Linked DNA regions of Homo sapiens. The protein of the gene in region 3 purifies or fractionates together with the protein of the main gene of each other region. This does not show direct contact. Each region holds a gene or a part of one and is shown on either strand. Other genes may lie near its edges. The genes, in order: RBM25, SSBP1, TAL1, IARS1, SPTBN1, SATB1 and ETS1.

Region 1 (4,192 bases), on a different chromosome or scaffold from region 3:
ATCTAGACTTCTTAGAAAATAATAATTATTATTATTGAGATGGAGTTTCGCTCTTTTGCCCAGGCTGGAGTGCAGTGGCGTAATCTCTGCTCACTGCAACCACTGCCTTCCGGTTTTAAGCGATTCTCCTGCCTCAGCCTCCCGAGGAGCTGGAATTATAGGCATGCACCACCGCACTCGGCTAATTTTTGTATTTTTAGTAGAGTGGGGTTTCACCATGTTGGCCAGGCTGGTCTTGAACTCCTGACCTCATGATCCGCCCCCGCCTCGGCCTCCCATAGTGCTGGGATTACAGGAGTGAGCCACTGCGCCTGGCCAGAAAATTATTGATAAAGACCTACAAATACTTACTTTGATTCCTTGTTAGGGTTGTAAGTGTATGGTTTCTATAAGTGGTATGTATTCCTGCATTATAAGCACTCGTAGAAAGCAAATAGGAAATAAGCCATCATTACAGCCCCTAAACTCCCGATTCTTGCAGTTTGGTATATTTAGCAATCTGATGTTTTTGTTTGTTTGTTTAATCTACATACAATTTTGCTTTTTCTGAGTGGTAGCTATCACAATTAACTTAAAATTGTATTTTGCCTTTACTACGTAACTGAATTTTCAACTGTTTAAAAGAGTCGTTACTATTTGTGTACCTATTGAGCAAAACAGTCTGAAAACTTGTGAATGGTTTGCAGATGTGTCGTATAGTGTGCTAGTCCTGAAATTTAGGGACCAGAATTTTTTAGCTATTAAGAAAAAGAAAATGAAAATGAAGTAGTATCTCAGGAATAGTTAAATAAAAAAATGAAGCTTTTCTGATGTTAAGAACAAAACCAATTCTGTGTTTAATAGGACTACAGAGATGTTTTTGAGAAAACATGTATGTTTATTAACTCTTGTTGTAGAGTGATTTTGATTTTCTTGCTTGATTTTTCTTTCCCCTGAATTTGCTGTTTTGTTTAAGAATGCAAGGCCAGAAACTGTCACTAATGACGATGAAGAAGCCTTGGATGAAGAAACAAAGAGGAGAGATCAGATGATTAAAGGGGCTATTGAAGTTTTAATTCGTGAATACTCCAGTGAGCTAAATGCCCCCTCACAGGAATCTGATTCTCACCCCAGGAAGAAGAAGAAGGAAAAGAAGGAGGACGTATGTGTTCTGACAACAACATATCATTTCTACCGTTTGTTTTTTATGATATCACTCTTATACTTTGATTACATGTCAGTTTTCTTTTTTCTTTTCTTTTTTTTTTTTTTTTTTTTTTGAGATGGAGGCTCACTTTGTCTCCCAGGCTGGAATGCAGTGGTGCAATCTCAGTTCACTGTAACCTCCGCCTCCGGGGTTCGAGCGATTCTACTGCCTCAGCCTCCTGAGTAGCTGGGACTACAGGCATCCGCCACCATGCCCGGCTAATTTTTTGGTTTTTAGTAGAGACGGGGTTTCACCGTGTTAGCCAGGATGGTCTCAATCTCGTGACCTCGTGGTCGACCCGCCTCGGCCTCCCACAGTGCTGGGATTACAGGCGTGAGCCACCGTGCCCGGCCACATTTTAAACTTTTTTACAGAGACAAGGTCTCACTATGTTTTCTAGGCTGGTCTCCAACTCCTGGGTTCAGGTTATCCTCCTGCCTCCGCTTCCTAAAGTGCCAGGATTACAGTCATGAGCCACTGCGCCCGGCCCCTATTTTACTTTGTTTGCCTATGGTTGTTCTGTCTCTGTTCTAAGCAAGAAACCAGATCTGATTCACTGAAGATTTCCACCCACTCTTAATTTTTAGCTGCCTTTCCTTAAGAAACTATGTCACATTCCCCTCCCTGAACAATAATGGTATTGAATAATCAAACTGGAGGATTCTGAAAGAGCAGTACAACTTGAAACATTCCTCCTCAGTGAATTGATTGCTACCTCTTTGTGGCCCTAAGCTAATTGTCCAGGTTGAAAGAAAAGGTTTAGTTTTCTCATACTTATTTCCTTTGGATAAACTTAGATAAATTATAGGAAGTGTTCTTTTAAAAATACTGGAAGAAGCCAGAAGTGGTGGCTGACACATGTAGTCCCAGCAACTTGGGAGGCTGAGGGGAGAATTACTTGAGCCCATGAACTTGAGTCTAGCCTGGGCCACAGAGCGAGACCCTTCTATAAAGTAAGAAAAAAAATCCCACAAATATTGGAAGTGTTTTATTTATGTTTTTGAGACAGTATCTTGCTCTGTCACACAGACTGGAGGATGGTGGCGCAATTACGGCTCACTGCAGCCTTGAATACCCATCCTAAAGTGATCCTCATGTGTTAGCCTCCTGAGAAGCTGAGACTATAGGCATGTGCTACCATACCCAGCTAATTTTTGTATTTTTTGTAGAGACAGGGTTTCACCATGTTGCCCAAGCTGGTGTTGAACTCCTGAGCTCAAATGATCTGCCTGCCTCAGCCTTCCAAAGTGCTGGGACTACAAGTGTGAATCACTCATAGCTGGCTCAACGTGTTTTATATGCATGCATTATGTAATAAAAAAGTACTACGTGGTATATATATTATGATTAGTTATGAATGGATGGTTACATTTTATATTATTTTAAATTTCAGTGCCTTTTTAGGCCATATTCAGTTTTCTTTGTGGCCAGATACATACATTTTTATTATTTGGTATGTGTTTCCTCGTTTGGTCATAGAACTTTTCTTTTTTGTTCCCGCCCCTACCCCCACCCAAGACGGAGTCTCACTCACTTGCCCAGGCTGGAGTGCAGCAGCTGCGATCTCAGCTCACTGCAAGCTCTGCCTCCCGGGTTCAAGCGATTCTCCTGCCTCAGCCTCCTGAGTAGCTGGGACTACACGTGCCTGCTGCCACGCCCAGCTACTTTTTTGTATTTTTAATAGAGATGGGTTTCACTGTGTTAGCCAGGATGGTCTCGATCTGCTGACCTCGTGATCCGCGTGAGCCACCGTGCCCGACCCATAACTTTTCTAAGGAGGTGTATTCTGTTAGGAATGGTAATTGGTAGGGTCAGTAAGGTACAGGGTAATTGAGGCCTGTAGAATTCATTCTTCCTCTTTCTTCATTAGTGGGAAAGGAGAAAAATAACATATTTGTTTGATGTGGATTGGGAGGAGATAATAAATTCTTCCTCTGTGGCAGGAGTTATGGGTAAATATTGTTGGTATGATTAGAAAGCCCTGCTACTATGAGAGCACCTTCTATATTTCCATTTCTTGGGGGTGTTGGAGTATCCAGAGAGGAGGGTAGTGTGTGATCAGTTATTGTAAAAAGAGTGAAATCACTTCTATTCCCAAGTAATTTGAAATCAAGAAAGCATCACAGAAGTGTACTGTATTGTTCACGTCATAAATGTATAGGGCATTGCTTTGCAGATTAGTATGAGCTCTGTTTTTCTTTTTTAAAAAAGATTCTTGGTGGATTTTTTCACAGATTTTCCGCAGATTTCCAGTGGCCCCACTGATCCCTTATCCACTCATCACTAAGGTTAGTTTAAATTGTAGGCTTTGACAATACCTGTGTTTACTGCTGATTGTTGATTTGTCATTCTTGTCTATCTGATTTTTCACTATTTAACTTTAGATTGTTAGATTTGTTATTGTGGATATTCTGTTTACTTATTTACTCTTTGAGACCTATACAGAATATCTAACCTTTAACTGTTTATATTGAAGTAGGGTGTTCTTTATTCATTCCCTCCTGTGCCCGTTTTCTTTTAGGAGGATATAAATGCTATAGAAATGGAAGAAGACAAAAGAGACCTGATATCTCGAGAGATCAGCAAATTCAGAGACACACATAAGGTAGTATTCTTGTCTTTTCACTTGATACCAATCTAGACTTTTTACAGAATCCAAAGCAAAGAGACAAAAAAAATCAACCTTAAATTAGAATATAATTTTAAATGTTTTTTATAGGTTTAATTGATATTTAGATAGAAAAAAGAAACAGAAGACCAATACCATATTAAAGTGGTCCTTGACATGTTGTGCTTAGTTTTTTCAGTTACTGACTATTCTGCAGTCATCTCACTTTAATATGAATAGAAGCTAATTTTATTTTTAGATTTCAACATAAACATCAAGGTCAGACTTAAATTAGATTCAGGGGGCAGCAGGATAACATACACTGTAGTGTATTTCTGGGGGCAGTTATTTAACTTGATCTTAGGAATACCTTTTCTTTAGAGCTGAGATTAAAATTT
Region 2 (3,323 bases), on a different chromosome or scaffold from region 3:
AAAGCACATCCTACATAGCCCTAAATCCATTAAACCTTGAGTCGACACAGCACACAGCACTTGTTTCTACGAGCACAGGGTTGGGGGTAGGGTTACAGATTAACAGCATCTCAAGGCAAAAGAATTTTTCTTAGTACAGAACAAAATGGAGTCTCTCATGTCTACTTCTTTCTACATAGACACTGTAACAGTCTGATCTCTCTTTCTTTTCCCCACAGATAACAGGGGCAGAGAAAGAACAGAACTACAGCTCCTGTGGCATCACCTGGAGATGAACGATTTCATCTCTAATTATTCAGGTCCTTATTGCTGGTAAACTATGTTTCATCAATGCTACTAATGAAACTGTCCAAAAACAAAAGATATGAAGAAGGTAGGTTAGTCTTAAAGATGTTTAGGTTAGACACTAACCACTGCTCAGCAACTCCCTTCAATTTGAGCTGAAGCTTAGAATCCCATTGGGATGATTCATCTATCAATGCTTACTGAGTGGCTATTCTATGTAAAGCATGGTTTAAAGTGCAGGCAAACAGAAGATTCAGTCCTTGCCTTCATGTCTACAGAGCAAAACGTTAAGAAAATCAATATTTACAAATATGGGATAAATGTCTCACATACAGTGATGCTCAGTAAATTCACTGATTGGACAAATCAATATTGTAATAAAAGTGTATACAAAAACCAGGAGACCTTCCCAAAGCATATTTATCCCTTTGCCATAACACAAATGAGCCTGAAAGTTTACTATTTTGTATACCTGTACATAGAAACCACCCTTAGAAGAATAAACAACTAGTAAATGCCATAACAGATAGTAGCTACCAAGATTATACCACAAAAAGGAGAGCGAGAACGACAGTCAGAAAAAAGATTATTACTCATTTTACGTAAAAGAGTATTTTAATTCTTGTCCTTGGAAGCCATAAAGATTATACATGACTTGGAAATGAGACTGTACCAAATGATGGCCAAAGAAGAATCATCCTTTCTACTCCTTCTCTTTCGTCTGGTCACTCAGAAATATAATATTATCTGTAAAAAAGCCAAAATGTAAATATTAATTTCAGAACTCTTTCTCCATCTCATTCAATAATTCTCCTCTAATACATATAACTTTAGTGCTGTTCATTAAAAGGATTTTAGCCATCTTTTCAAAATATTAAATCACTTGCTATGCTCACGAGAGGTATATATACAGTTGGCATAAGTGGAGCTACAAGTTAGGCACTGGCTGCTTTTCGAACAATTCAGATCTTGTTAGAAGAGGTGGGATATTTCTTGTCTTCCAGTCTTCTCAGAAACAATTTCCTGCAAAAGAACTGGTCACAAAATTGGATGCTTGCAATGGTCAGGCAGATTCCACGACACTAGGCAGCACATCCTCAGAGAAAAGGACAAAAGTGTATCACATTCTACACTCTGGGGGTCTAGAGGAAAGAGTAAGAGTCCATATGTGGCCCTGTTAGCAATGACAGGATTTACTTACGTTTTTAACTTTAAAAATTCAAATAGAAGAAATTTTATTTTTAAATTACAATACAGAATAACTTTTTGTTTTTCCTTTGGAGATGGAGTCTCTGTCACCCAGGCTGGAGTGAAGTGGTGCAATCTCAGCTTACTGCAACCTCTGCCTCCTGGGTTCAAGCGATTCTCCTGCCTCAGCCTCTCCAGTAGCTGGGATTATAGGTGTGCACCACCATGCCTGGCTAACTTTTGTATTTTTAATAGAGACAGGGTTTCACCATGTTGGCCAGGCTGGTCTTGAACTCCTGACCTCAAGTGATCTGCCCGCCTTGGCCTCCCAAAGTGCTGGGATTACAGGCATGAGCACCGCACCTGGCCCAGAATAATTTTAATATACCAATTCTTGGGAACATTTTATGAATCAACATCACAGAGTTAGCATTTTTATCCAAAAATATCAGACGTTGCTCTTAAAATGCTGTTCCAGAGGGAGTTAGCTAAAAATAAACAAAAGAACAGAGGCAAGTAGTAGTCATCCTTCAGTATCCATTGGGGGACTGGTTCCAGGACCCCTATAGATACCAAAATCCACAATGCTCAAGTCCCTGATATAAAATGGTATAGTAATCACATATAACCTATGTACTTCCTCTTATATACTTTAAATCATCTTTAGATTACTTACAATATCTAATACAAGGTAAATGCTATGTTAACAGCTGTTACACTGTATTGTTTCACTTGTATTTTTGTTGTTGTTGTATTATTTTTATTGGTTTCTTTTTTTCACATATATTCAATCTGTGCTTGGTTGAATCCACAGATGCAGAAACAAGGGACATGGAGGAATGACTGCATTTCCTTTATAATTCCAAAAGATTCTTGTAACTATAAAATTATCCACCAAGGACTGAATATTTGTTCATGACCATAGTCTTCCAAAAACTAGAATGTTTTGGTCCAGAACGGTTACTTCAGAACAAACTACTCGAATTAATATCACTGTGGAAAAAGCCAAGAGTGCCATCCACTGGTGGTGGTTTTTTAGTTACAGATAGGATCCCTAGGAGAAAAAAAAATCACCAATAAAACAGATCAACCAATAAACTCTATTTTCTTCAATTCAAATGTCACTGAAGAGCTCTTCAATTTTACCATTAGACATAAACCTAAAGTAAACTGACTGTGCTAGTGGAACCTAGTGACAAGGAAAAAAAACAAAACAGCATATCATCTGAAATGCTTCCGTTTGGCTTATTAGTAACAACTCAATAATCCGAACAATCTAAAGTTTGCCCACACTTGTGGTTTATATTGGGACCCACAGGAGGGTAGGAAAATACCTACACTGCTTTTCAAGGTTAATACACTTTCAAAGAAACTTAGCAGTAAGAAACCATGTGAGCATTCTATACAAATTATAAATTATTAATAAGGTATGGTGGTTAAGACATGAACTCTGGAGCAAAGGAAAGAAGAAAGATAAAAGGCAAATCTAAGAGACTTAAGGTAGAAATCATGTAATATAATGTATGAATGTTTATGAAGTTATCAAGGAAATTTGAACACTACGATATTTAGTAAAAAAATTAACAGTAATTTATTAATATTAGGTGTGATAATAGCACGGTAGTTACATTTTCAAAAAGACACCTTATCTTTTAGAGATCCCTATGGAAATTTATGAATAAACTTATGTCTAGAATCTGTTTCAAAATAATCCAGGTGTAGGTCAAGTCGCTGGAGGCATGGATATAACACTGTCCATCAGCTGACACTGAAGCGAAATGGTAGGAGTTCATTTTACCATTTTTTCTGCTCTTATACATGTTTGACATTTTCCATAGTAAAAAAAAAAA
Region 3 (4,192 bases):
AGAGGAGAAGAGCTAAGACCTCACCTAAGTCCCACTGCCCATTTTATAGCTAAGGAGACTGAGGCTGGGATGGAAGCAGACCTCACCTCAGTGGTCAGTCTGTGAATCAGCTCATCCATGCCACACTTACTGCCTGATCATCTCTTTCTCTCTCCTACACGCACACAGGCATGCACATGCATGTGTGGGTGTTCACACACACACACTTTTAATGGGAAGGATCACCATCCCCTGCCCATGGTACCTCTGAAGCTGCCTTTCCAAACCATAGCAGGCCCTAGCCCAGCTGACTGTTTGCCAAAGGCCAGACCCAGCCTGGGAAAAACACAGCACAACTGCAGGGCAGTTCTACCCTGGGCGGCCTCTGAGGAAATTACTTGCTGCTTTCAGGCCTCCAGGCCAGACAGAGAGCATCCCTCAGCAGTGACATAGGGAGGACAGTCCCTCCACCATGGCTAATGCTGGTGATCTTGAGGGAGCTCCTAGTTGGGGAGGGGGTACTTATGACTGCTGTCACAGCTGGAGCTAGACTACATCCAGAAGGGGAGATGGTGGGGAAGTGGTCAGGACTTATTCCAAAGCTTAAGACCAGTGTTATGAGGGTGGTCCAGGACTTAGCTGTGTGACCCAGGACTTAGCTGTGTGACCTTGATCAAGCTGGGTAACCTCTCTCAGCCTCAATTTCCTTATCTGTGAGATGTAAACAATAATATTGCCCTCATGAGCTTGTGGTAAGGAATAAACAGAAATCAAGCACACATAGTCCATGGCACATAGTAGGTGTCCAATACATGGTAGTAGCAATTCAGCAACAGGAATCCACATCAAGTCCTAACTCTAGATCTTGCATTAGTTCTACTTCTATGGACTCTTTTTGGGTTCAATCTCTAATTTCAGTGTCCCCTAGACACATCCTGCACACTCATACCCTACCCTTCGCCTACATGTCTGCCTATTCCTCTCTGGTTTTATTCCAGAGAACCACCCCCTCTCCTCACCTTCCTCTTTCCTGAGTCTGTCTACCCCTCCTGGTGTCCTCTGCCTCTCTCTGGCCAGCACTGAGTAGGTGCTCGGTAAATATTGCCAACACTTATGGATAATGACTGCCCTACACTCCTGCACACCCCACAAACCCTCGCCCCTATGCTCTGCCTCTTCTGCCTATTGTAGAAAATGCCTCATCCCTGGGGAACTTCAGGGCTGGTCCTGTCTTCTTCCTGTTTGGTACACCCACCTCTCTTAGACTAGAGAACTCCTCTCTAATCTAGCAGAAGGCACCCCTGCCTCTCAGCCCTGCACACCTGTGCCCCAGGCTGCTTGGGTCTTTTGAAGTCTTTTCTGTTGTGCAGATCCCAGCCCCGCTCCTCTCCAGAACACCACAGAGGGCTCCACTCCAGAGGCTCCAGCTCCATACTCATATTCCTCCCACCAGTTTGGAGCATAAATCCCAGCCTTGCTCTGAGGCCTTGGGCAGCCTTCCTACAGGAGCCCCAGGCCACAGCCAAGCTGAAGTTCTGGGGGCATCTGGGTCTGGCTCAAAGTCCCTCAGCTCTGAAGTGCCTGCTCTCCTACCCCTGGTGCTGGGACCAATCTACTATACAAGGTCAACCTTGGAAAGATGGCGAGGGTCTTCCAAATCTCCCATTTGTCCAAACCACCCCTGCAAGTTCAGGGAATATTCAAGTACCTCAAAGGAGCAGTGCCAAGGCCCTTCTCGGGGAATCCAGGGGGCAAGGTAGAATCCATGATGTCAGGAAGGGAACTCCAGGTCTAAGCCCAGAATGTGTTAACGGGAGACAAGGGGAGCCTACTGTGTAGGGACCTCGGAGAAAACCCTTGATGACTCCATTGCAGGGAGGAAGCAGACTCCAGACTCTAAGGAAGACTTGGGAGGAAGTGCAGGGAATCCCTGAGGGTCAGTGCCTAGAATGGGGGATCGGGGGACACTGTGTGATTCTGCGCCCACTTGGGATCCTTGCCAAAGTGTAGGAATGGAGCCCGGACTGGGGACTGGAACTAACTCCAAAGGTTTGGGAACTAACTCCAGAGGTTTGGGCTAAGCGCCATTATGTGTCTCTCTCCCATGCCTCCTCTTTGCAGGACTGTGAGTGTGGTCCTGCTAGCCCCATCCAGGACTTTACTTAGCCCTAGCTCAGCTGCAGGGTGAAGGGCTTCGGCAGTTTGGGTTTGGAAAGTGGCCCGCCCATCTTTGTGAGATACCTACGGAGTAGTCCCAGATGTTCCCTCCTCCAGAGGGCTCTAACCAGCGTGAGGGGCAGGTACAACGGTGGGGTGGGGCAGACTCACCATCAGTAATCTCCATCTCATAGGGGGAAGGTCTCCTCTTCACTCGATTGTTGGTGGTGAACATAGGGAAGGCATCCGGCTCCCCAAAGAACCCGCTGTGGGAGGGAACGGGCAGATCACAAGATCCCATGTTGAGGGGAGGGGAGAAAGAGCTTCCTTAGGGATCCTCCCCACATGTCTTGAGCCCCCCACCTCTGGGCAACCCTGGTCCCTTCACACTTGAGCTGGGAATAGGCACACACAGACACACACACACACATACACACGGAATGCCCTCACTCTGTCTGTCATAAAACAAGCAAAGGGAGGAAAAGACACCTAACCACACATCCCTCCACACAAACACAGGCACATATGCAGAAGCAGAGGTGAATAACACATGGAATAAACACAAAAATGAACACACACACACACACACACACACACTTCACAGATAGAAACACTCTCCATTCTCCCGCCCCAGAAACAAGCACATAATCCACACACACCTCCACTCCCAAACACATGCCCACTCAGGCAAATGTAACCTTCACACCTGATGGTGTGCATCTTGGTCACCACAAAGGGGCACACTGTCCCCTCTCCCCACCTCACCCCACCCATAAGGGGCTGTAGATACACAACAGACAGGAAACCCTGACTCCCCTCAGCTGAAATGCTCCGCCTAGCTCTCTGCCCTCACCCACCCTAAGCTCCCCATAGCTCTGTCTCGGGTGCCCGCCAGGTTCATTGACTGCCCCACACTCTATCCCTGCCCCATCTGCCGGTTTCTATTCCAACCCTATGGCTTCTCTCCCTCATCATCACAGTAGCGCCAGCAGGGAAACGGATGCCCTGACACCAACCGGAGTACAGGCTGGGGCCAGAGACCACGGCTAGGAGCAGAGGGGCTGGGAGTGGAGGGACAGGTCAGTCCTCAGGCGGGCCCTCCAGCAGAGATTCGGGGGAGGGTGCCTCTGCCACCACCCTCAGATCCTTATCTCTTGCCTGTCCAGCTAGCGCTGAGTTTCCGAATGAATTTCACACCACAAACATCTACCTCTGCTCACAGCAAAGCACATGCAGGCACACTCTTTCCTGGTACCCACGCTCAGGGGACTCCTTCCTCTCCGTCCCCCACGACACCACCACCAAGCACACCAGCCACATGCCTGCACCCGCGAAGGTGTCCACGTCCTCCTCTCGGCTTCCACACAGCCATGCACCCCGCAGCCACACGCACACTCTCTCTCACAGAAGGCCCCTCCCTCACTGGCACTCACTCGGGGGCTCCAGCTTGAGGCTCTAGAGCCACTGGGTTTAAAACGACCTCCTCTCCCTGCGCTCCACCCGCTCGGCCCCCAGGGCAGGCCGCCGCCGATGTGTAGAAGGAAACCCCGGTGGGGGTGGTCGCCCTGCCCACCCGCCCAGCCCCTGGCCCCTGGCCCCTGGCCCCTGACCTGCCGAGAGAGGCCAGCGGCTGGCTGAGGCTGTAGAGCAGCGCGCGGCCGGGGGCGGCGGGGGCAGCCAGCGCGGGAGGACTCAGCTGCACCATGCGGCCGTCGCCGGGCAGCTCCGCTGTAACCGAGGCGGGCGCGGGGGCCGGGGCGGGCCCGGGAGGTCTGCACAGCTCGGTGGTGGGCACCCGATGGCGCGCTTCGGCCGTCGCCGCGTCGCGGCCCTTTAAGTCTCTCGCGGCGCCGCCCCCACCGGCAGGGCCGCCCCCCGGGCCTCCGCGCGCGCCCAGTTCGATGACTGGGGGCTCCGCTGCGGCCGCGCGGCTCGTCTCCTTGGCGACGCCGTTCAGCAGGACCAGGTGCGGGGGGGCCATGCTGGCCTCGGCCGCGTCCCGTCCCTCTAGCTGGGGGTCACTGCGAGCCGCCTCGCTCGGCGGCCGCTCGGTCAT
Region 4 (4,192 bases), on a different chromosome or scaffold from region 3:
CTCCCTGGAGTCTCACTTCCTGGCTGCTTCATAATTTATTTAATTACTGTCCCGTTGTTTGACATTTAGGTTTCTGATTACAAACAAAAGCTTTGTGTGTACATATATGCATATATCAGTGTATGGATATTGGATAGATTCCAGAAGTGGAGTTTTGGGGTCAAAGTTTATAGTGTCAGTTGTCTTCCTAAACATTTTTATTCCATGATATTTTAAAACATCTTTATTCCATGATGTTTTAAAAACGCATATGTTTTACCTCATCTTCTTTGTGATGATAGAAAACAAATATTTTTTAAAATTTCATTGTTTATTCTTTTCACAGGTGATATTTAAAATCATTATTATAGAAAATGTTAATTTCTATATTTGGTTTTCAGTTGCTTGAAAGTTGCAGAGAAATATTAGAAACCAAAAGTTAGATTTTAAATTCTGACATTAGTACCTGTGGCTATGCATAAAATAGAAATTTTTTTTTTTTTTTTTTTTTTTTTTGTGACAGGGTCTCGCTCTGTCACCCAGGCTGGAGTGCAGTGATGTGATCTTGGCTCACTACAGCCTCCATCTCCTGGGCTCGGGCAATCCTCCCACCTCAGCCTCCCAAGTGGCGGAGATTAGGCATAGTAGTACAGGCTTTTGTAGAGATGGGGTTTTGCCATGTTGCCCGGGCTGGTCTCTAACTCCTGAGCTCAAGTGATCCTCCCACCTCGATCTCCCGAAGTGCTAAGATTACAAGTTTGCGCCACCACACCCAGCTGAAAAATTTTGAAATTAACTACTTCACTTAAAATGAGATTAATTAATGTAGCTAAATATAATGGCAAAACTAAACATTCCGTATTATTTGCTTCAAGCTGTTCTCATTTTCCCATCCGCTACTGTGCCATCACCATCCCTGCCGCATCAGTAATCCTCAGTAGCATGACTGAAGCATGAAGTGTTCTGTTTAACTGATCTTCTGCTTAGTTAATAGTTAACCTTGTGGTACTCTGCAATTGCTTGCACAAAGGTTACCTCTGAGGGATGAGGTTTATATTTCTGGGTCTGGAGTCCTTTTTCTGTTATGCTCAACTGTCTTGATAGATCTTCATAACAAGCATTTTCTTCTTACCATACAAATCACTGGTTTTTAAGCATATTTATAGAATGGTACAACTATCACCATAGTTTTAGAACATTTTCCTCGTCCCAGAAAGAAAGCCAGTATTCATTAACATTCACAAACCATTTTCCCCTCAATATCTGACCATTTCCTGGCATCCACGAACCTATTTGCTATCTCTGGATTTGCCTTCTCTGGACATTTCATATAAGTGGAATCATACAATTTGTAATCTTTATGTCTGGCGTGTTTCACCTAGCATAATGTTTCACATTAATTTATGTTGTAGCACATATGAGTGCTTCAGTCCTTCATATTGCCAAATACTCTATTGCATGTGTATGCTGCATTTTGTTTATCCATTCACAGTTGATGGACACTTGAAGTGTTCTTGCTTTCTGGCAGTTAGGAATAATGCTGCTGTGGACCTACATTTTTGTGTGAACATATGTTTTCATTTCTCATTTTTGTTTCCTCTTGTGCATTAACTGTAGGAACTCAATGTTCGAAAAGTTACACTGTCTACAGATAAAAACAAGTATGGCATTCGGCTAAGGGCAGAACCAGATCACATGGTCCTGGGGAAGCGTCTGAAGGGAGCCTTTAAGGCAGTGATGACGTCCATCAAGCAGTTGAGCAGTGAGGAGCTGGAGCAGTTCCAGAAGACTGGTAGGTGTCTACACAGACAAGGGCACCATTTATGTCCTGAGTCTGAGGGATACTTTTTAGGCTACTGTTTGACTTTTAATATCACATCCTTTCCTTTCCTGTCCTGTCGTGTCCCGTCGTGTCCTGTCCTTTCCTTTCCTTTCCTTACTCTCTTCTCTTTTCTCTCTTCTCTCTTCTCTTTTCTTGACAGAATCTCGCTCTGTCATCCATCCTGGAGCACAGTGGCGCGATCTTGGCTCACTGCAACCTCTGCCTCCCAGGTTCAAGTGATTCTCCTGCCTCAGCCTCCCAAGTAGCTGGGATTACAGGCACGTAGTACCATGCCTGGCTAATTTTTGTATTTTTGGTAGAAACAGGGTTTCACCATGTTGGCCAGGCTGGTCTCTAACTCCTGACCTCAGGTGATCCACCCGCCTTCGGTCCCCCAAATTGCTGGGATTACAGGTGTGTGCCACTGCACCGGTCCATCCTTTTCTTAAGTAAAACTTTTTTTCCTGTTGATAAAAATGTTTATTATAAATAATTCTTACAGTTTAGAAAGAAAATAGCTGGGCACAGAGGCTCACATCTGTAATCCCAGCGGCTCACATCTGTAATCCCAGCATTTTGGGAGGCCCAGTTGGATAGATCACTTGAGATCACTACAGGCACATACTACCACACTTAGCCAGATGTGGTGGTATGTGCCTGCCATCCCAGTTACTCTGGAGGCTGAGGTGGGAGGATCCCTGGAGCCTAGGGTGATTTTGTCCTTACTTTCATGGTGCTTGCTGACATTGAAGATTTGGGAAAATAATTATGGTTTTGATAAGTGTTATAAAGGGAAGGTGTAGGGTAACATAAAAACATGTGGGGGTACCTAACCAAATGATGGGATTAGGAAAGGGAAATCAGCCCCATCTTGCTACCCCTATACAGAGCATTTCAGGGTGCCCAGAAATTTGCAGCTCTGCCATGATTAGAATCATACATGGTCTGAGTGTGGCTGTCTGACATCCTGTAACTATCCTGGGGCACAAGCTGTTTATTGTTACGGCTTCCTCTGAAGTTGAAAATCATAAGCTAGGAGATGTCTTGAGAAGAGAGATTTGAGGATTCATAAATCAGATGGGGGAACTGTCCCTAAGATTCTCCAAATATTTAGATAGAATTAATAAAACATAAGACATCAGCAGCTAAACCTCAAGTTATTACTAATTACTAATCAACTCAAAATATTAAAATAACAAAGTGTTACGAGCCTTCAAGCCACAAATCTAAATTGTTCGCCAGATAGCCAAAGCATCAAAAATTCCTGAGATGGCTGGGGGTGGTGACTCATGCCTGTAATCCCAGCACTTTGGGAGGCCGAGGCGGGCAGATCACGAAATCAGGAGATTGAGACTGTCCTGGCTAACACGGTGAAACCCCGTCTCTGCTAAAAACACACACACACACACAAAATTAGCCAGGTGTGGTGGCAGGCGCCTGTAGTTCCAGCTACTCAGGAGACTGAGGCCGGGGAATGGCGTGAACCCAGGAGGCAGAGCTTGCAGTGAGCCGAGATCCTGCCACTGCACTGCAGCCTGGGTGACAAAGCAAGACTCTGTCTCAAAAAAAAAAAAAAAATTCCTGGGCTAAACCTTATTTGAAATTGAAAGCCTAGTTTCTGAGCGTACTGTTCTGCACTGATGGAAAACAAGATCATCTTCAGAACACAGAGACAAAGTAAACATAAAAATGACACCCGGGTGCTCAGAGCCCAAGAAGGTCATCATCAGTGACAACAGTGGGCCTCCCTATCAGCGGGGGTGTTAACATCAGCAGCTGTTCACATTTCTGCCTCCCCTGAACAGGCATGATGCTCAGTACTACACACTGCCCGTCTCATTTTAGCCTCACCACACCTTGCTCAGCAGGTAGCAGAACACCATGTCATACAACCAGCAAATAGTGGACCTAAGTTCACTTTCTCTTTAAAGACTGTATTTTCTTCATGACATCCTGCTGCTCTGTGTTTATGGTGAGCATTTGTTGCCTCTTGGTGCCTTCCCTTAGCTTTGTCATGTCTTTGGACCTGAGAGTTTATATAAAACAGTAGATACTGGTGATGACTTAACTGTCTTCAAGGTAGCATAGTGTAATCTAAAGAAAGTTTGTCATGTCTTGGCTACAACCATGACATGAGTCAGAGGGAAATGATCTCTTGAAGCCTCTGTGGCTTTGTTATTGTGAAATTTTAATCAAGAAGGGGCATAATACACGGGTAGTGGGGCAGCTTGAAGAGGAGGGGAAGCTGATTAACAGTGTAGCTGCTTCTCCATAGGGACCATTGTTGTGGAAGGCCATGAATTGCACGATGAAGACATCCGCCTCATGTACACCTTTGATCAGGCCACAGGTGGGACTGCGCAATTTGAAGCACACTCAGATGCTCAGGTA
Region 5 (4,192 bases), on a different chromosome or scaffold from region 3:
TTCGCATAGGATTGGGCCTTCACAACCATTTTCCCATCTCTCCTCTCCTTGTTCCCTTGGCCACCACTGTAACTTGCTCCCTTTACTTCTGGACCCCCAGTCACCTCTCTCCTGTCTCCTTGCTTCTAGTTTCTTCCAGTCTCACTGTATTCTGAACACTGCCAAGGTGATGAGTTTCTCAAGTATCTTATAATCACAGAATTTAGAAGTGTACAGGAGCTTAAAAACTGAATGCCAGATTTAATCGAGTGGTAGTTACTGCCTAGAACACCATGTCGAGAATATGACTGAGACTATCTCAGCTCAGTGGAAAAAGAGTACCATTACTGATTTTCGATGTCTGCCAGGAACAGAAGCGAGTGATGGCATGTGCCATGTTTTAACCCCCACTATGATTTCATCTAAGTCTTCCATTTTATAAAATTAGATCTGAGACCGGAGGGTTAAAGGTTTGCCAAAGTCACACATCCAGCCTGTTAAAGGTATTTTACCTTCTGTGTATAGTACATAAAATATATTCCATATACTAGAGTATACAGTCCTTTCATTCAGGAACTAATTCTTATTCAACTTTAAGCCAGTCCACAAAACCATAACAACTTCAAGTCCTGGCAAGATAATGTATCCAATAATTATTCATTAAATAAAAAACAATATTACAAAGTAATCTCAGAGTAGCAGTAAAGGAAGATCATTAATACTATAAATGCTTAATGGTCAAAAGAACTGTGTACAAATAAATGTAATTACATTACTTTCAAGAACCAGAACCTAAACTGATAAGGGTTTCTAGTAAGTGGTCTCTTCAGACTGTATTAATCAATATATAAATGCCATTGGTAATGCAGCCTTTTAAAATACAAAAGTTAGAATAAGCCATTTAATAGCTCTCCTGACATAAAAAGGTTTAGGTAGTTTTTGCAAAGCATACCAAAAGGGATCAGTGGGTCATAGTGCTTAGGCAGTCCCAACAGAAAGGAAACAACTGTTATCAACTAAATACGTACTATGTGCCTGGAACTGTACACTGCTGTATCATAACTAAGAGAAACTAATATTATTTTGATTTTTCCAATGAGGAAACTGTGGTCTTGAGTAACTAACTAGCTCAAGGCCAGTACCTAGTGGTAGCCATAAGGCTAGTATACAACACCATTAGGATTTGGGCCCACAACCTGTTTGACTCCAAAACGAATGCTCTTTCCAAACAAAGAAAAACTTTTCTGAAATAAGAAAATTACCCTCACAAACTTTAAAGGACAAAATACTGATTATGACTCTGCTAAATTACAAATAACCGATCATCAAAAGAAATCACAAATTCGAGTTAAGAAAAAAAACACAAGCTGAGAAGTAATTGTCGCAAGACATGTAATCCACAAAGGATTAGTAGTAATCTACATACAGAACTACAAATTAATAAGATAAATGGGTAAAAGACTGAACAGGTACTTCACAAAACGAAGAACCCAAATGGTTAATAATGTAAACAGACATTCAAACTCAATAATCAGAGAAATTGTAAATAAAAATCACAGTGAGATAATGTTTCACTGGACAAGATTTTCAAGCCTGGTATGTGAAGCACTGGCAAGGCTTTGGAACTGTAACACTTATGGCTAGTGGGAACACGATCAACATAATCGCTTTGTAAAAAACAGTTCTACATTCTCTACTAAGGCTGATGATGCATATGCCCTGTGAGCCAGAAAATTTCATTCCCTAGAGACAGCAAATGGGTGTGTGTGCCTCCACATATGTACCAAGAGCCGTGTACAAAAACCACTCACAGCAACCCTTTCACAATAGCAAAAAAACCTGGAATCAATCCAAATCTCCATCTAGAGTACAATGAATAAATAAATCACGTTAGAATACTATACAGCAGGTGAAACTGAATGAAATACAGCCATGAAATGGATAAACCTTGGGAATAGAATCTTAATCTAAATATGTGAGTCAGAAGAATACATAAAGTATAATTTTGTTGATATAAAGTTCAAAATCATACACAATCAAGATTTTTTAAAAAGGATAAACCATAGAGAAGGGAATGATATGCACAAAATCAAGGATATGGGTTGTTTCAGATGGGATGATGGAGGTGGGCTCTGAATGTATAAGGCTCTTCCTGAACTAGCCGGTGGCTGCCTGAGTGTCCCTTGGTTTATGATTTTTATTTTTTTGAGACAGAGTCTCGCTCTTGTCACCCAGGTTGGAATGCAGTGGCGCGATCTCGGCTCACTGCAACCTCTGCCTCCCCAGTTCAACTGATTCTGTTGCCTCAGCCTCCCGAGTAGCTGGGAATTACAGATGCCTGCCACCATGCCCAGATAATTTTTGTATTTTTAGTAGAGATGGGGTTTCACCATGTTGGCCAGGCTGGTCTTGAACTCCTGACCTCAAGTGATCCGCCCCCACTCGGCATCCCAAAGTGCTGGGATTACAGGCGTGAGCCACTGCACCCAGCTGGTTTACGATTCTTTAACATATATTTTAGGAACATTATTTTGTACCTACCAATTAGTTGATTCAAAAAAGAACTCTAAGAAAAGACTGGACGAGAGGGCAGGACATTGACTATATCAGATGACAGACATCAAGATGCCAGAGCAGAGGGAGCAGAGAGGACCCTTTGCTCAGGGGTTAGCTTCCGAGGCTCCAGCTCTGATGTCTCAAAACCAATGCCTTTTTCTTCCAGAGGGGAAAAAGACTGTTTTTCAACTTTAGAGGTGTTTTACAAAACAACCTAAAACACTGATTAATCTAAATAAACCATGGTATATAGGACTCTTCCACCAAGAATTAAAGAACAGCTTTATAAAATAATTTTGTATTAAACAAATAATTTACAGTGAGAGCCTCACTTTTGTCACCACCATCAAGGAAAAAAATGTGCTGATACTTCAGCAAAAGAAAGGAAAATTCAAGAAGGAAACTTTTGATATTGAGGTCCCTTTGCTGAAGGAACAGAATAGAGTTTCTTCATTTAATGTGCATACAACTCACTTAAAGGTCTTGTTAAAATGTTGATTCCGATTGGCTGAGTTCAGAGTGGGGCCTAAGAATCTGCATTTGCAACAAGCTTCCAGGCGATTCTAATGTTGAAGGTCCGTGAACCTCACTATGATAGCAAAGGACATTATGAAAATGCCTTCTCCAGAGATGTTTAAAAATAGAAACACAGGTATATCTAATTGGTGTAATTTCCTTTAACCACTGAGTAGAAAAAAATAGATGATGTTATTCCCACACAATAAAAATTTAAATATAATTACAAGTGCTACCGGAAAAATCAGAGTACTAAACTAGGTCTTTTGCAAAGAAAAGATGCCCTGAGAAAAAGCAAAGACTGAAAATTTACAAGAAAAACCCATGAGATGCTTTACTCACTTCCACAGACCTACAAAGTTCACTCTTCTAACAGGGGTAGTTAGCCCCTTCCTTCTGGAAGAATGGTTTGCATTTCCAATAATGTAGTGAAAGAAACTACGGCTGCCATTAAATAAAGCCCAATTATAATGAAGATACTAGTTACGATGCAACATAATTAAAGGAGCATCATGTCATTGCACGTAAAAAAAATTAGGCTTTAAAATGTTCTATAAGAATATGCTATTAAAAAGAAAAGCTTAAAATTATTTCGACAAAATCCACACTGAATGATTTCCACTAATCATGTCTATGTTAGCAGTAGTAAAATCCTTCCACGTCAAAATAGTACTTCCACATGTAAAGTCATACATTCAAACATCAAGACAAAGCAACCACTCTACAAACCCTTCCAGGAAACTCTGCCAATGCCAAGCCTCTGCTCAGGATGTGTCACAAGTAGAGGGAGGTCTTCTCATTTGCTCTGCAACATCACAGATAGTTGTTACTAGTCTTGCCCAAGAGAAGTTCTTCACAGAAAACCTCAACTGTGGGAGACGACCTAGTGACAGCAGTTCCTTCACTGCCCAATACTTCTCCTCTCAGATGAAGGTTTTGGTCACTCCAGTAATGACAGAGTTACAAAGAGCTTAACCCAACAGAATTCTGCACCTGCTGTGTAAGTCAGAACAGCTAAACCTCCTGTGACATCAACACAGGATATTTCTTACAACAAAGTAAATCCAAAACGTTTGGATGATCCATGGGAACAACATTCATAAAAATCTGTACGCAACACGATTTTACACAACCAGCACAA
Region 6 (4,192 bases), on a different chromosome or scaffold from region 3:
CAAACTCACTGGTCCCAATAAATCCAAATACATGAAGATGACTTTATAATTGTGACTCATAAATATACGAGACTTCGCGATTTTTTGACTGGACTCTACATCTTTTCTACTCAAAGTATAGACCAGGGACCAGCAATATGGGCATCACTTGGAAGCTTGTTAGAAATGCAGAATCTTGGGCCCTACCCCAGACCAGTGCACTTAGCAGCTGAATTTTACCAAGATCCCAGGGGATTCACATGTATATTAAAATTTGAGAAACAGAACTTGCACTTTCCACTCTATTATTTGGATTTAAAGTGGACGCGCATTAACACTGATCAAAGGTTAACTGACCGTATTTGAGAAGAAACAAACTATTCACAGAGATCCTCTATCAAGAGAAAAACATTCTGCAATCTTATTACTGGCTTCATCAATAGTAAAGCTTAAGTTTTGAATTTCAAACCGATCATAAAAATTTTAAATTTATACATTTCATGCTTCTAAATTTCTCAAGGATACCACAAAAAGATGACCTATCGTGACTTATCTTTATCCTGCTTTTAATAAATGCCCGGAAAACTGTCAGCCCTTTAACATACAAAAATGAAGAAAAACATGATTTTAATGAATCACTAGGAGGGTTTCTTTTTTTAAATCATTTTCAATCTTCCCAGCAAATTTTGGTTACGGTAATTTCAATGACTAAATTCATGGTCCATATTAACCTGTTACCCATATTCTCTAGTAACAGCTAACTTAATTTCCTACCGAGTCTTAGGAGTAAGATTTTGTAGCACCAATCTATCCCTCACCCCTATGTGCAGAAACATGAGAACTCACATTTCAGACATCAGTTGGTCTATGGTGAAATAATTTATAGAAGGCAGCATTGTTCAGGAGGCAGTGAACAACCAGAAAAGCCAGTTTGGGGACAAAAGTATTTTTATATAATTATCTTCTTTAAGTTACCTCTAATGTAAAGCTCTTTCAGTTATTATTCATTCTCCTGACATCCACTATCAGTGTTAATTCTGTAGCATGCACACATTTCTGGAATATGTAAATTTGGGGGATCTCTAAAGAACTTCCAGTGAAGGATAAGCTGGAGTCGCATTATTTATGTAAAACACAGCTATCTTTCCTAAGAGGCACTGTGATATCTTTTTTTTTGACACTCTCTATAGTCATTTTCACATTTTATATCTCTAAAAAGACATTCTTAATGTGTTCATGATGCTCTGCCATTAATCCAATAGCTTGCAATTTCACTAAGAGCCTCCCACAGTCCACAGTGTAAAAAGACACTTAGCAAAGTTGCCAAAACCAGAGCCAGAAGATTACCTGATCTGTCAGCTTCAATCTCACTTACTCTCTTGTAATAAGGGATCAATAAAGTCAGACACTAATAAAAACTATTGAGATCGCTGATGGATAATGGTGATTCTTCTGCAAATGGATGACAGTTGATGTTCTTCCACTCTGGTCCAATTTTTAAAAAAATTATTACTCTTTATCTAGACATTCTGGCAGTTCCTTAAATGTTAATAATACACATGAGTTCTAGATGTGGTTTATGTCTTACTTTTTAGAAGTGTATGGAATATCCAAATTTTGCCGAGGTTTTTGACAAACATCCAGTCTACTCCAGTTTGCCAACAGTTCTATATATGAAATTTGCTCTTTGCTGCACACCTACTATATGCCTGGCTGGTAGTAAGGATGCAAAGATGGCAGACAGCCTCTGCCTACAAAGATGAGGCACCTGTCATCCAAAGATGGCGGACAGCCTCTGCCTACAAGAAGTTTACTATCTATTAAGAACACAGATATGTAAATAGATCATCTCAATTTAATGTGATTTGGTATATCAACAGTGGAAAATGTATAGGGGACGACGGAAGGAAGAATCATCCATGGTGTGTGTGAAAAAATGTCTGAAATAGTTTTATAAAACTAGAACCTATATGTAATAGTGCTATACAGTTTATTATTATTCGTACATGGAAAATAATATCCATATGTGCATCATTGTCAAAGCTTCCCCCTACCCTACTTAACCCTAAATTGGTAGGTTCTGGGCTTAAGTGCTTTTCTGTCACATGGTGTATGCTTAGGAAACTCTGATTAATGTAAATAATAGCCTAAGCAAGACTTAAATCAAAAGGCTAATCCGTAACTTATAATGCATGACAAAGCAACTTTTTGGATTCCCTATCTTTTTGTGCTTTTGGGTGACTGGGAAATATTTCCTAATTCAGGTAACTTGGAGTCATGTCTATTTTTATTGGACAATATGCAATAATCTGTCCAATTAGATTGCTCCTATAGCCACTTCATGAGGTGTATGTGTGTGGGCGTGGGCGTGTGTGTGTGTTTCAGGTGGTAAAATTCCTACTAAAGGCTTAGGCATAGCATTGGAGTAGACCAGCCAGCCGGTTTCAATGGCAGGAAAGAGACTGCAGAATTTTGTGGTGCACATGGCATTTGAAAAATCATATACAGTAGTGTAATCTTAAATTTAGAATATCAGGAAAAAAACACGTAATGTTTTGATAACACAAATAAAAAAGTCATGATTGGTAAAATTTTCCTAGGTGGTGGGATGTACAGATAGTAGGCCAAGTTCCATGTTAGAAAGGCTTGGGATTCTTGTGTCACTTAAAAGGAGGTACTGGTTTAAAAAGATTGCACTAAGCTGTGAGTTCACGTAGGTCTGGGGCACCATATTATTTTCTAGCTCAATGCCTGGCATGCATTAATATAAACACTAAATGTTCATCTGACAAAACAGAATAGAAATAAACATATATTCAAGTGAGGATGTGTCACACACTGGTAGTATGACCTTGGGTCAAATAGTTGACCATTCCATCACAATTTCCTATGCTAAATGGGAATGATAATAGCATACACCTCATGGAGTTGTTCTGAGAATCCATCAATTCAGGCATTTTTAAAATTCATTTAGCATATACTTAAATTCTACTATGTGCCAAGCACTGGGCAAGTCACTAGGAAAATAATGACTTGAAGAGACATATTATCTGCCCTTGGACAGGAAATAATAGATGTGATACAATTAGCACAGAGCCTGTAACATATTACATATAGACTGAAGAGATATTAATTACTATGACAATCCTTTGCCTCCTCCTCATCACTGGGCTTTCATTATATGATCACATTTCATATCAGGTGACTATGTTTTGAGTATCAGATAAAATTTTCAAATGATATACAGTATTTTGAGTCTTTTTAATGTAGAATGAAGTATACTGATTAAATTATTAAGTTACAAGTTGGTACAAGGAATAGTAAAGGAAAACACCACGGGGAAATATTTCTTTCCTTCTCATACTCCAATTTGGTGGTGTTTTCTGAAGCTGGCCTATATCTGGTAGAAAGCATCAAGAAGGCACACCACTCCTCTGGCTTGGATGCACGGCCCATGCCCTCTCCCATCTCTAGCTAACAGCTGCTCATCCTTCAGGATACAGCCTGGGCATCCTTGCTTCCATGAGGCCTTTCCTAACTTCCCAAACCTCCTGCAGCAGAGCACTCATCCTGCTGTTTATTTTGCACTGGACTGTGGGCCTTAGGTCTCATCTGAATATATCCTGGACTCATCAGAGGGCTGGACACAGACTAGGTGATCAATAAAAAGGGTCACTGAAACAAGCCACCAGAAATCCTCTTCCCCTTTTTTCCCCTTAAAGGTCAAACATAATAGCAGCTTAACTATGACACGAATCTTTCAAATCCATCGCTTTGGCTGTCGTGATAGAAATCATAGTTTCAAGAACCTTTGTTCATTAATTTGCAAGAGATCCCTTCCCAGGTTTTTCAAAATACATCCACACAGATGTCTCGGAAGTTGCAGTGCTCGGTGGTTATGTTATTCCAGTTCTCTCTCAGTGTCTATTTATATAAGCTATCCAAAGCACTTTGAAAAAGACACAACTTGTATGGCAAGTTTCCTATTCAGTGGCTGGTCTGTATAAAACATCAATGTTCACAGAATAAAATAAACCAACCGACAAAACTCAGTCGGTTGAAATACCAAGTTCAAATGCTACACGGTACACCAACCAATAAATAGGCCACAGCTTCCAGTGTTGGGAAATACAATTTCAAAGTTGGCAGAAATTGGCTGTGGGTCTCATAACCCCAGTGTGACACAATATTCTCATCCTAGGAGCCAAGTTGT
Region 7 (4,192 bases), on a different chromosome or scaffold from region 3:
AGAACTGAAGATGGTTTTTCTGTCTCACTACTAAATCTACAAGAACCTCATTTGCTTGACTAAGTAATCCAACATTACAGTAGTAGTGAATATTCCTTCTTATTTTAAGTAGCCAGCACTGACAAATGAAGGCTGTGTTCCAAATTATGGGCTACTGTCTTCTGTGTCTTAAGCTAAGTGCATTTATTCTTTCACTAAGGTTACAGAGCAGCAACTCACAGTACAATTAACATCTCAGTCTTTGTTTCTTCACAACTTCACTATAATTATTCCGCCAACCCTTGCTTAAATGGAAATGAGTCATATCCATCTCCTATTTCTCTAAAAATAAACCCATCTCCTAATTAAGCATAACACTTTCAAGTCCTGTATGAATTGACATAGCTCAACGAATCCTTCTTAGAATATTAAAATGAACTCATGTCATTATAATTTTAAAGAGTATATTGTTTTACCCTTCCTTGAGGAGTAACTCGCTACTATCTCCTGAAAAAGAGAAAGACTAGAAGATGTTTTACTCTGGTATACCATAGCAGTTAAGAAATAAGGAATGCTTCATAGATTATTTTATGCATTTCCTTCTCAGTGGAAACAAATCCCTCACCATACAGTACTGAAATGGCATTGTCAACAATGGACAGAAAGGTCTTGCTTCTCCTAGGCATCAAGGAAATACATTAAAACCTGCCGACTCTTAGGTCTAGGAATCTAACTAAGAAAATGCCAATTCTAGTCTCTGAAACCTTTGAAATACTAACAATCTACACTTTCTAGTCAATCATACTTCTGTCAGAACATCTTCCTGAAGATCAAAGGTAATATTCAATACACTGCCTTACCATAAAAGTGGCCATAGCCTGTGTACAAATGCTATGCCTCAAATCCTGTATTTTACCATGAAATTCAACAAATGATCACACTTGGCCTTAGGATGTACTCCTGAGCCAGAAGCATGGTAAGTACTCATAAATAACTGAATAAATAAATAAGGATTGTGTTTTACTTCGAACCTCAAAACAAAAAAAGAATAAGCTGGAGGAATAATGTAGAGTACTCTTTGCTTTCCAAGAATGGTCGTAATAGAGGCCATGGAATAAGAGATTGTTTTCCAAGTCAAATGCAAAGAAGGGCCACGAGATTAAAAACGTCAACTCTAATCCAATGAATGCTGCCAATGAAACCTCTGAAGAGACTAGCATTTTAAAGAATTACATTACAGACTCTTAGCCTGTGAAGCATGTCAGACATAATCTAGAGTTTAGACTTGGCTCTGGCTCTAAAGGAATTCTCAACAAAACTGAGAGGCACCATAAATAGAAAGAGATATTACAAGAACAATGAGAGGGGACTGGATAGTTGCAATAATGCCCCTTTAAAATTGAACTAAAAGATACCAGCTGCCTTAGATCTCTCAAATCCAGCAAGCAACTTCTTGGACTATGTCTGATTGTGATTTTCATGGTGGAGTTTCATTTGTTTTATTACCCGAAATGTAAGGTTCCAATTTCTCAGTATAATGCTAAACAGCTTGCTAGCATTCTTATATAAAGAGGGATTGTGCAATTCCAGTGAATTTTGGAGTTGGAAAAAATTCATCAATCTTCTCATTTATTTCAATGAACTGAGTCCTAAGAGGTTACGTGTTTAGCAGTGATCAAGAACCCTGGAGTTACATACTATGGGTGAACGTAGAACTGCTTGCTGCGTGTATGGCCATGAGCAAATTTCTTAACCTCACAATCAGTTTCCTCAACTATAAAATGCAGGTAATAATATCAACACTTTCAGGATTATAGAGGAGGATCATACAAAACACAAATACTTAGCAGCATGCTGTATAAATAGTAAAAATGGTCAATAAATAATAATTGTTATTATTGCTATTTTATCAGTAGTGCCTGGCAATTAGTAAGCATTAGTAAATGCTTACTAATGTCACTAATTAGTAACACTACTGTTTTATATTAATTACTTTTTTCTACTGCCCAACATGGCAGAGGTTATTTAAGTGTTAGAGCTAGAACATGGATAGCTAAATCTCTCATCTCTTTTTCTAAAGACTTGTATTCAAGTCATGAAAACAGGATTCCCTTTCATAATCATAGGTTGAGTAGCATTAGTCAAGAATTTTGCAGGAGAAAAGAGCCACAATTTCTGTTTAATGGTAGTCTGTTTGTACCATTGTTATGCATAAAACCAAGAAGTAAGCATTTTTCTTACAGTGGAGAACTAACTCATTGAAAGATTGCATAGCACAAATGGTGAAATATTGCAGCTTCCTGAGTTAAACCAACATCTTTTTGATATAATGTCGATCTTTTGTGGACTTACGCTTTAGCAACTAGATACAAATATAAGGAAGTAGTAAAGCACTGCGGAAAATAGTGCAAGATTTCTTGTTTGTTCATTTTTTTCATTTTTGCTTTTTCATTTGTTTTTGCTTTTTCTTTAGAGCAGTGCCTCCCAAACTGTAATGTGCATATGAATCACCCGGGGATCCTGTTACAATGCAGTCTGCTGCAGTAGGTCTGAGGTCTGGCCAGACATTCCACATTTCTAACAAGCTCCCACGTGGTGCTGATGCCGCAGGTCAGAGGACTTCACTGTGAGTAGCAAGGCAGCGCTGGACTAACTTGGTTGAACTCATGAGTGATTATAACAAGGTAGGTGTTTAGGAGGCAGAGCCCAAGGAGGAACAGGCAAGACTTCTGTGCCAAGGCTGAGCAGATGCTGGTAACCTCAGGTGCAATACAAACCCGGCTGGGGAGAATTGAGTAGCTCAGGACCTGTCAGTGTCTCAGGAGCCATATGCCAGATGCACATCTGCCAAGACTTCTTGCTTTTCCTAAGAAGACATGGTTCTAGTTATTTGGTCCCTTTTATCAAGAAACTGGCAATGGTGCTTTCTCCCATCAACAGAAGTCATTTGGATTAAGGATTACAAGAGGTGCCAAGAGATAATTTAAAAGAGTTATTTGCATTATATGTTTTTTTTTACAATTGTAAAAGACTCACATGTTTTGGAAACTTTTTGTACATTGTTTTGCAAACTTTTATGCATCTGGAATTATTTCAAAGTGAAAAGTTTTTTTTAAGTCTCTAAAAAGACTAAATCTCTTTTAAATCTCTAAAAAGACCAAAATTCTGGAGTTTTCTACCTTTCCACATCTCTTGAAAATTTATATATTTTTTCCTCCCCATTGAGAATATTTTCCTGACATTTGCACTAAATGTTTGTTGCTTACTCTCATGCTAGTAAGTACTACCCAGCCTGTTCCCTCTAAGTTCTGAAGGCAGCTCCAACACTTGATTACTGGAATATGAAATCTATCCTCTTTTGAAAAAAAGGCAGATCAGAAACATCCTTCCCTCACTGCTCTAGATACCATTTTTTTCTACCTGAACTCCCAAAGCATGTATAGGTTATACTACACTACTTAATAATTATATTGTCTTTCATTTTTATCCTCTTTTCTAGTAAAGATTATTGTGTTAATTTTAAAAATGGAGTTTACATATTGTTTCTTCTGTGTTTGGTATGGTCTCCAGCACAAGGCTGGGCATGGAGTAGAAATAAAACTGATATTTGTCAGGGAAGGGACTGACTTACTTACCCAGGAAACTAGGCCTGGGTAGTCTTTCTTCAAAGTCAGTATCTTCATAACAATGAATAAGTAATCCACAGATACCACTTCAGAAAACAGGCTTAATCCAGTGTTCTCCTAGATAAGCAAATCAGTCTAAGCAGAAAAATCTATCCTAAATTTGTGTAAATGTCTTAGAGTTACTTAGATTCCTATGACATGCAGTTCCAATCACAAGCTCTGGGTTCACATTCCATTGGCTCTAATCAGGGTCCACCATGAGTTAACACGGTCATATGACTGAGCCTCAGAGTCCCCACCTGGTAAATGGGGATGACGAGAGTGGAGTGCCCACCTCAAAACTTCATTGTAGATTAAATGAAGCAGTCCCTGCAAAGCACCTAGCAAGGATGTTGGAACATACCAAGTGCTCAGTAAACGTTAGGGCTGAGTATTCCTCCTTAGGTGAAATGAAGAAGAATGGATATGATAACTAGAAAATCATCTACATTAAAAGGTGGAGTTCAATAAGCTATACTTTCAGTACAGCAGGGATAAAGGAGATGAGGAAGCAAAAAGTAAGTTATGTCTTCACATCTAATTTTTCC

What was found.
Region 1: the proteins of TAL1 (region 3) and RBM25 purify together in Homo sapiens (affinity purification with mass spectrometry; one large-scale study listed by BioGRID and IntAct). This does not show direct contact.
Region 2: the proteins of TAL1 (region 3) and SSBP1 purify together in Homo sapiens (affinity purification with mass spectrometry, with the first as the bait; one study listed by BioGRID). This does not show direct contact.
Region 4: the proteins of TAL1 (region 3) and IARS1 purify together in Homo sapiens (affinity purification with mass spectrometry; one large-scale study listed by BioGRID and IntAct). This does not show direct contact.
Region 5: the proteins of TAL1 (region 3) and SPTBN1 purify together in Homo sapiens (affinity purification with mass spectrometry; one large-scale study listed by BioGRID and IntAct). This does not show direct contact.
Region 6: the proteins of TAL1 (region 3) and SATB1 purify together in Homo sapiens (affinity purification with western blotting; one study listed by BioGRID). This does not show direct contact.
Region 7: the proteins of TAL1 (region 3) and ETS1 purify together in Homo sapiens (co-immunoprecipitation; one study listed by IntAct). This does not show direct contact.

What each region holds. Positions count from the first base shown.
Region 1 is NC_000014.9:73,095,960-73,100,151, forward strand, and holds part of RBM25 (RNA-binding protein 25), read left to right. Parts: intron 1-955; coding exon 956-1,141; intron 1,142-3,420; coding exon 3,421-3,474; intron 3,475-3,707; coding exon 3,708-3,791; intron 3,792-4,192. UniProt on the Homo sapiens protein: RNA-binding protein that acts as a regulator of alternative pre-mRNA splicing. Involved in apoptotic cell death through the regulation of the apoptotic factor BCL2L1 isoform expression.
Region 2 is NC_000007.14:141,748,020-141,751,342, reverse strand, and holds the end of SSBP1 (single-stranded DNA-binding protein, mitochondrial precursor), read right to left. Parts: intron 1,033-3,323; coding exon 989-1,032; 3' UTR 855-988; downstream 1-854.
Region 3 is NC_000001.11:47,221,697-47,225,888, forward strand, and holds part of TAL1 (T-cell acute lymphocytic leukemia protein 1), read right to left. Parts: coding exon 3,747-4,192; coding exon of another isoform or gene 3,570-3,746; intron 2,403-3,569; coding exon 2,308-2,402; intron 1-2,307. UniProt on the Homo sapiens protein: Implicated in the genesis of hemopoietic malignancies. It may play an important role in hemopoietic differentiation. Serves as a positive regulator of erythroid differentiation.
Region 4 is NC_000009.12:92,244,956-92,249,147, reverse strand, and holds part of IARS1 (isoleucine--tRNA ligase, cytoplasmic), read left to right. Parts: intron 1-1,596; coding exon 1,597-1,771; intron 1,772-4,076; coding exon 4,077-4,189; intron 4,190-4,192. UniProt on the Homo sapiens protein: Catalyzes the specific attachment of an amino acid to its cognate tRNA in a 2 step reaction: the amino acid (AA) is first activated by ATP to form AA-AMP and then transferred to the acceptor end of the tRNA.
Region 5 is NC_000002.12:54,458,997-54,463,188, reverse strand, and holds part of SPTBN1 (spectrin beta chain, non-erythrocytic 1), read right to left. Parts: intron 3,852-4,192; exon of another isoform or gene 3,781-3,851; intron 1-3,780. UniProt on the Homo sapiens protein: Fodrin, which seems to be involved in secretion, interacts with calmodulin in a calcium-dependent manner and is thus candidate for the calcium-dependent movement of the cytoskeleton at the membrane.
Region 6 is NC_000003.12:18,397,581-18,401,772, forward strand, and holds part of SATB1 (DNA-binding protein SATB1), read right to left. Parts: intron 1-4,192. UniProt on the Homo sapiens protein: Crucial silencing factor contributing to the initiation of X inactivation mediated by Xist RNA that occurs during embryogenesis and in lymphoma.
Region 7 is NC_000011.10:128,580,545-128,584,736, forward strand, and holds part of ETS1 (protein C-ets-1), read right to left. Parts: exon of another isoform or gene 2,453-4,192; intron 1-2,452. UniProt on the Homo sapiens protein: Transcription factor. Directly controls the expression of cytokine and chemokine genes in a wide variety of different cellular contexts. May control the differentiation, survival and proliferation of lymphoid cells.